2 separate regions of the Homo sapiens genome follow, and region 1 is linked to region 2. Evidence: fine-mapped expression QTL. A gene starts in region 2. The other region holds a variant in brackets. All regions are shown on one strand. Distances are between the middles of the regions.

The links. PIP is the estimated chance that this variant, and not a neighbour inherited with it, causes the effect.
Region 1: its variant is fine-mapped to the expression of THAP7 in monocytes (TOPMed, PIP 0.99).

What each region holds. Positions count from the first base shown.
Region 1 is chr22:20,967,481-20,970,187 of GRCh38, reverse strand. It overlaps AIFM3 (AIF family member 3), which reads right to left. Exons shown (of 21, transcript NM_001386814.1): 2 at 2,213-2,383. The coding sequence starts at 2,243. Among named protein-coding and RNA genes, the nearest start is that of AIFM3, 1.6 kb to the right of the region's middle. The variant A/G (reference allele first, on the strand shown) is at 1,640.
Region 2 is chr22:21,000,577-21,003,579 of GRCh38, reverse strand. It overlaps THAP7 (THAP domain containing 7), which reads left to right and starts at 1,462. Exons shown (of 4, transcript NM_030573.3): 1 at 1,462-1,748; 2 at 2,169-2,324; 3 at 2,793-2,933. The coding sequence starts at 1,669. THAP7-AS1 (THAP7 antisense RNA 1) reads right to left here and starts at 1,658. Exons shown (of 2, transcript NR_027051.1): 1 at 751-1,658. RefSeq lists silencers at 467-857, 1,499-1,608, 1,629-1,798 and an enhancer at 2,399-2,608.

The DNA of each region.
Region 1 (2,707 bases), 33 kb after region 2:
CAGTGTTTTACCAGTTAGCTCTGAGCCTCCTAGCAGCCATGGTGAGGATGGAAAGCCTTTAGGTATCAGTTATGGCCTAATAAAAGGCAGGTGAACAGATGCTAAGAGAGCTGCACTTCCTCCTAGCTCTGAGCTAGGTGAGGGACTGGTCTGATACCTTCTTATCAACTACTCAGACAGGACACACAGGAGCACAGAGGGAACCCAGGAAGCAGGTGCTGATGCACACGGAGCCACAGAATCGAGTGGAGCAAGATAGAAAGTGAAGGATTTGCACAGAGGTCTTCTGCTTGATCTAGTCTCTTTGTGGCCCCTTAAGACCCCAGCTGAACCCTCAGGCCCCAAATGCTGTCACTCCCATATCTGGAAATTCCCTGAGCCTCATGCCTGACCTGCCCAGCATGGGCACCTGGGGCCTGAGCCTCTGGCTACAGCCCCACAGGGGAGGCCTGGCAGCACAGAGCCCAGCTCAGAAAAGGGATAACAAATAATATTCCTTGGGAGGCCGAGATGGGCGGATCACAAGGTCAGGAGATAGAGACCATCCTGGCTAACACGGTGAAACCCCGTCTCTACTAAAAATACAAAAAAATAGCTGGGCGTGGTGGCGGGCGCCTGTAGTTCCAGCTACTTGGGAGGCTGAGGCAGGAGAATGGCATGAACCTGGGAGGCGGAGCTTGCAGTGAGCCGAGATCACGCCACTGCACTCCAGCATGGGAGAAGGAGTGAACTCTGTCTCAAAAAAAAAAAATTCCGCAAGTGCTTCTGGTGTGCCAGGCCCTCATGCTAGGCACAACAGCCCCACTTTACAATGAGGATGCAGAGGCTCAGAGAGGGGAAATCACCTGCCCAAGGCCACACAGCCAGAAAGGGGCAGGGCTGGATTTGCCTAAGTTCTTAGGACTGCCTTTGGTGAGGGTGGCCACCCCCGACACTGGAAGTCCTGGGGCCACGGGTCCCAGGCAGGCCAGCCATTTGGGGTCCTTTAAAAGAACCTGCAGGTGGCATCTTCTGCCAGGGCCTCCTGCCAGCCCAGCGGTGCCACAGACGCCTGGTATGAGGCCAGCTGGCATCATCCCACCCACTGCTAGGGGGAGACAATGGACGTCATCTGCCCAAGGCACATTTTGAGGCAGAGAGGGATCCAGCCCAGGCCTAGGTGTCCACAGCACAGGAGCGGGGGAGGAAGAGTGGCTTCTTGGAGCAGAGGCAAGTGGGTCCCTCTGCCTGGTGGGTCATCACAGCCCTCCTCCCTCGCCCAAGTTCTCCCTTAGACCCAGGAAAGGGAGAAAAGCCTCACAAGTTCCAAGGTAACGGAGCTGATGGGTATCAGGTAAGGGGAGCTGGGGTGAGCTGGCTGGGGTGAGCTGGCTGGGGTGAGCTGGCTGGGGCAGCGTGGCCTGGCAGGTTGAGTGGAGCACTGGCTGCGCTCTTGAGGTCTCTCTAAGCCTCAGTTTCTCCACCTGTGACAAAGCTGCACACTCCTGCCTCCCCAGGTGTTGTGAGGAGAGAAGAGGGAAAGTGGGGGGCCAGAGGGAGAGCTCCGCAGACATGAGTCTTTAGTGGAGAAAAGACCCAGGCCTCCCCTAGCACCCCAGGACACTCCCACTTCTGGCTGGAGTAGCTCAGGCTAGGTTGG[A/G]TGGTGATTTCCTGTATAAATGGGGAAGTGTGCCCAGAAAGGCCAAGAAGGCAGCCCGAGACCACACAGGGGATCAGAGGAGGCAAAGAGAGCCAGGATCTGCCCACTACACCCTCACAGCAACTCTAAGAGGTCAGGGTGGCCAGGCCCTCTCTTTTGCAGAGAGAAAAACAGAGGCTCAGAGGGGTAACTTGCATGCCCTAGGTCACAGAGTGGCTGAGCGTGTCCCCAGCTCCCCCCTTCCCTGGCCCTGGGGGCATAGCCCCTTCCCCAACCCTGCAACAGGAGGAACCCTGACTTTCCTTTTCCAAGAAGGGTCCTGCTGTTATTCCCACCACCAACACTCAAAGCCCCAAAGAAAAAGGGGCACCCACTGGAGCAGGGGCCAGCTGGGGGAACTGCTCCAGGCCCCCTACCCCCTCCTGGCGGCAGCGTATTAACATTCCGAGCGGGTTCTTGGATAGCCTGACCTACTTCGGAGGCCTACCGAGTGCAGAGGGGGAGGGGGGGGAGACGGGGGAGGAGGAGGCGGGGAGGGAGGAGAAAGGATGGAGACAAGAAGACAGGAGGTACCTGGTTTGGGTTTGGAGAAGCAGCCGCCCATGGCGAGTGGCCTGAGGATGGCCGGCAGGCAGGAGCACAGATGGGGAGCTGTCGGAGGCCTAGGGCGCCCCCCATGGGGCTGGACCCCCTGCAGGCCTTAGAGACGCTGGAGCCGCCATCCTGCTGGAGCTGCTCTAGGACCTGCAGGGGAGACTGGAGCCATCAGGACCGGGGCGTGTGGGCAGGTAGAGACACAGAGGGACGGAGAGAGACAGTGGGAGCTTCGGAAAGAGTCTTACATTTGAGCTGGGAACCATGGCGTGAGCCTGATCCCAGAGCGTGGGGCCCTGGAGGTCACCTCCCCTTTGAAGCCCTCCAAGCTCAGCTCCCTCACTCCTCCAGTGGAGTTCCTCTGCCCGAACCTCGGCCGCCCATCGTCCAGCCCCGCGGCTGCCTTGCCCAGGAAATCCTCCCTGATTTCTACTGCCTCCTCGTGCCCCCCTTCCCCTCTCCAAATCCCACAGC
Region 2 (3,003 bases):
TGGCGAAATCTCAGCTCACTGAAATCTCCGTCTTCCGGGCTCCATCTTACATGCCCATAATCCCAGCTACTCAGGACGCTGAGGTAGGAGAATTGCTTGAACCTGGGAGACAAAGGTTGCAGTGAGCCGAGATTGCACCACTGCACTCCAGCCTGGGCAACAGAGCTAGACCCTGTCTCAACAACAACAACAAAGAAGGAGGAGAAGGAGGAAGAAGGAGAAGAAAAGAAAAAAAAAAGTCGTCAAAGGATATTAATTGTCGATAGATAACAGATAATGCCAAAAAATATAGAAGCAATTCTTAAAACACAGTGTTGGAACTGGTCCACAGCTCTGATTTTTAATGAGCTCCCATTTCTGAGGCCAATATAAACTTCATTCTATGCTGCCCATCTCTGACAGGTGGGCATTAACTACCAGCCCCCCACGGTGGTCCCTGTGGGAGACCTGGCCAAAGTGCAGCGGGCGGTGTGCATGCTGAGCAACACCACGGCCATCACGGAGGCCTGGGCCTGCCTGGACCATAAGTTCGGCCAAGTGCGCCTTAGTGCACTGGTACGTGGGGGAGGGCATGGCAGTGGGGGAATTCTCCGAGGCCCGCGAGGATCTGGCAGCTCTGGAGGATTATGAAGATGTGGGCATGGATTCCGTGGAAGCTGAGGCTGAAGAAGGCGAAGAATAGTGAGGGGAGGGTGCGGCAGGCAACCATCCCTCTGTATTCCCCACCATAACGCTAGGAGAGCTAATTACCTATTAAAATTTCCGTATTGCAAATTAGCCGGGCGTGGTGGCGGGCGCTTGTAGTCCCAGCTACTGTGGAGGGTGAGGCAGCCGAATGGCGTGAACCCGGGAGGCGGAGTTTGCAGTGAGCCGAGATCGCGCCACTGCACTCCAGCCTGGGCGACAGAGCGAGACTCCGGTCTCAGGAAAATAATAATAAAATAAAAAATAAAATTTCTGTATTGCGATACTGTCTTTCTCCTGTGTTGTACTTTGAGAGATTCCTCCTCCAGATAACCCTCCCTGAAGTCCACCTCCCCAGTACGAGAGTGAGTGCGGGCTCTGGTTTTTGTCGGGTTCTTTCGTGCAAGCGTCCCAGGCCCCGTTTTATTTCTTCCGTCAGAGGTCATTCCGAGGCGAGCTGCCGCCCCTGCGGCTTTCGAGGCTCCCAGGACACTGCCGCTTTCCGCTCCCGGGCCGCTCCCGAACGCTGGGGCCGCTCCATCGTGCCGGGGTGTTTACGGAGAAAAGTGAGGCCTGAGCGGACGAAAGAGAAGCCCACGTGGGCGACAATACTGGTAGTCCAGGGAGCTGGGACGACGCGGGCGCGTCAGAAACTCGCACGCTCGCGCCGCTTACTAACCCAGCTAGCTAGGACCTCGCCCCGCCCCGCCCCGGTGGCGGGGGCACCTCCGGCTCTCCAGTCTCTATGGTACCAACTTCCGGCGCGCGCTACCCCTCGCGAGACTTCGGCGGCGCAGCAATGGCCAGAGCGTGAGTGCCGCTGACAGAAGTCAAGAGAATCGGCTGGGACGGGGTTGGGGCGACAACGGGCCGGGGGGGACCCGACAGGCCAGAGCCCCTTGGGGAGGAGCGGCGGCTGGAGGCGCGAGGCTCCTCCGGATGCCCGGAGAGCCGCTTGCGACTTAACTCCCGCCTCTTTCCCAGATGCCGCGTCACTGCTCCGCCGCCGGCTGCTGCACACGGGACACGCGCGAGACGCGCAACCGCGGCATCTCCTTCCACAGGTCAGCGCGCGTGCGCCGCGGGCTCACGTGCGCATGCGCTAGTTGTTGCTCGCCTCGGGTCGCAACTGCGTAGAGGCTTCGCGCCTTTCTCAGATACTGAGGAGGCTTGAACCTGTGGGTGGGAGGTGAAGCGGAACGGTCCCGGCGGGACTGAATGCAGTCGGGAAGGGGAGGACGGGAAGTCTAGCCGGCTTGGACCCGCCCCACTCTGTTACCTGCCAGATGACGCTGAGGAAACTGCTTTTCTTCTCGAGGCCTCCGTTGCCTCGTCTGTGCCCGGGCGGTGGTGCTTACCCGGCGGGGTCGCAGGGAGGTCTCGTGGCGGCGCGTGTTGGGTCTGCGTTTCCCCTCTGGGGTGCTTGGGCAGCATGAGCCCAGGGCTGTGGACAGCCTGGTGCTCACGGGTTTGTGGCTCCACAGACTTCCCAAGAAGGACAACCCGAGGCGAGGCTTGTGGCTGGCCAACTGCCAGCGGCTGGACCCCAGCGGCCAGGGCCTGTGGGACCCGGCATCCGAGTACATCTACTTCTGCTCCAAACACTTTGAGGAGGACTGCTTTGAGCTGGTGGGAATCAGGTGGGCCTCCCTGCCGGCCGACGCTGGGGTAGGATGTGGGGCTCCCGGCGGACTGGGACAGCTGCAGGTCATGGAAGTCCCTTGAGCAGCCTGCGTCCAAGGGGGCTGTTTCCTGTTCCCAGCTCTGCACAGTGAAACCCACCCCCAGGATCACTGTGCCTGTGACACAAGGGGAAAACAGGAGCCTTTCCAGAGAGTATCTTTCAGAGCCCCAGTCTTGCCAGCAAGTCCACAAATCAAAGAATTCTTTCTGGCTGGTCAGCCCAGCTCGGCTTATGCAGGCTTTCCACACACCTGGACTGTGAGGAGTCCTGCGGGGAAGCGATTGGTGTAGCTGTAACTTGGCGTTCCCCAGACGTATTGTTTGCACGATGCCTTCCAGCATCCCACGGCGCTGCTGCTGGGGGCAGATTGGCCTGGGGAGGCAGCACTTGCTCTCCAGCTCATCTGGGTTGCTTTTCCCCGCAGTGGATATCACAGGCTAAAGGAGGGGGCAGTCCCCACCATATTTGAGTCTTTCTCCAAGTTGCGCCGGACAACCAAGACCAAAGGACACAGTTACCCACCTGGCCCCGCTGAAGTCAGCCGGCTCAGACGATGCAGGAAGCGGTATGTGATATGGGTGGGGGATGCCCCACTCCCACCCCTAGGCTGAGGGACTGGGCCCTAGGGGTGTCTG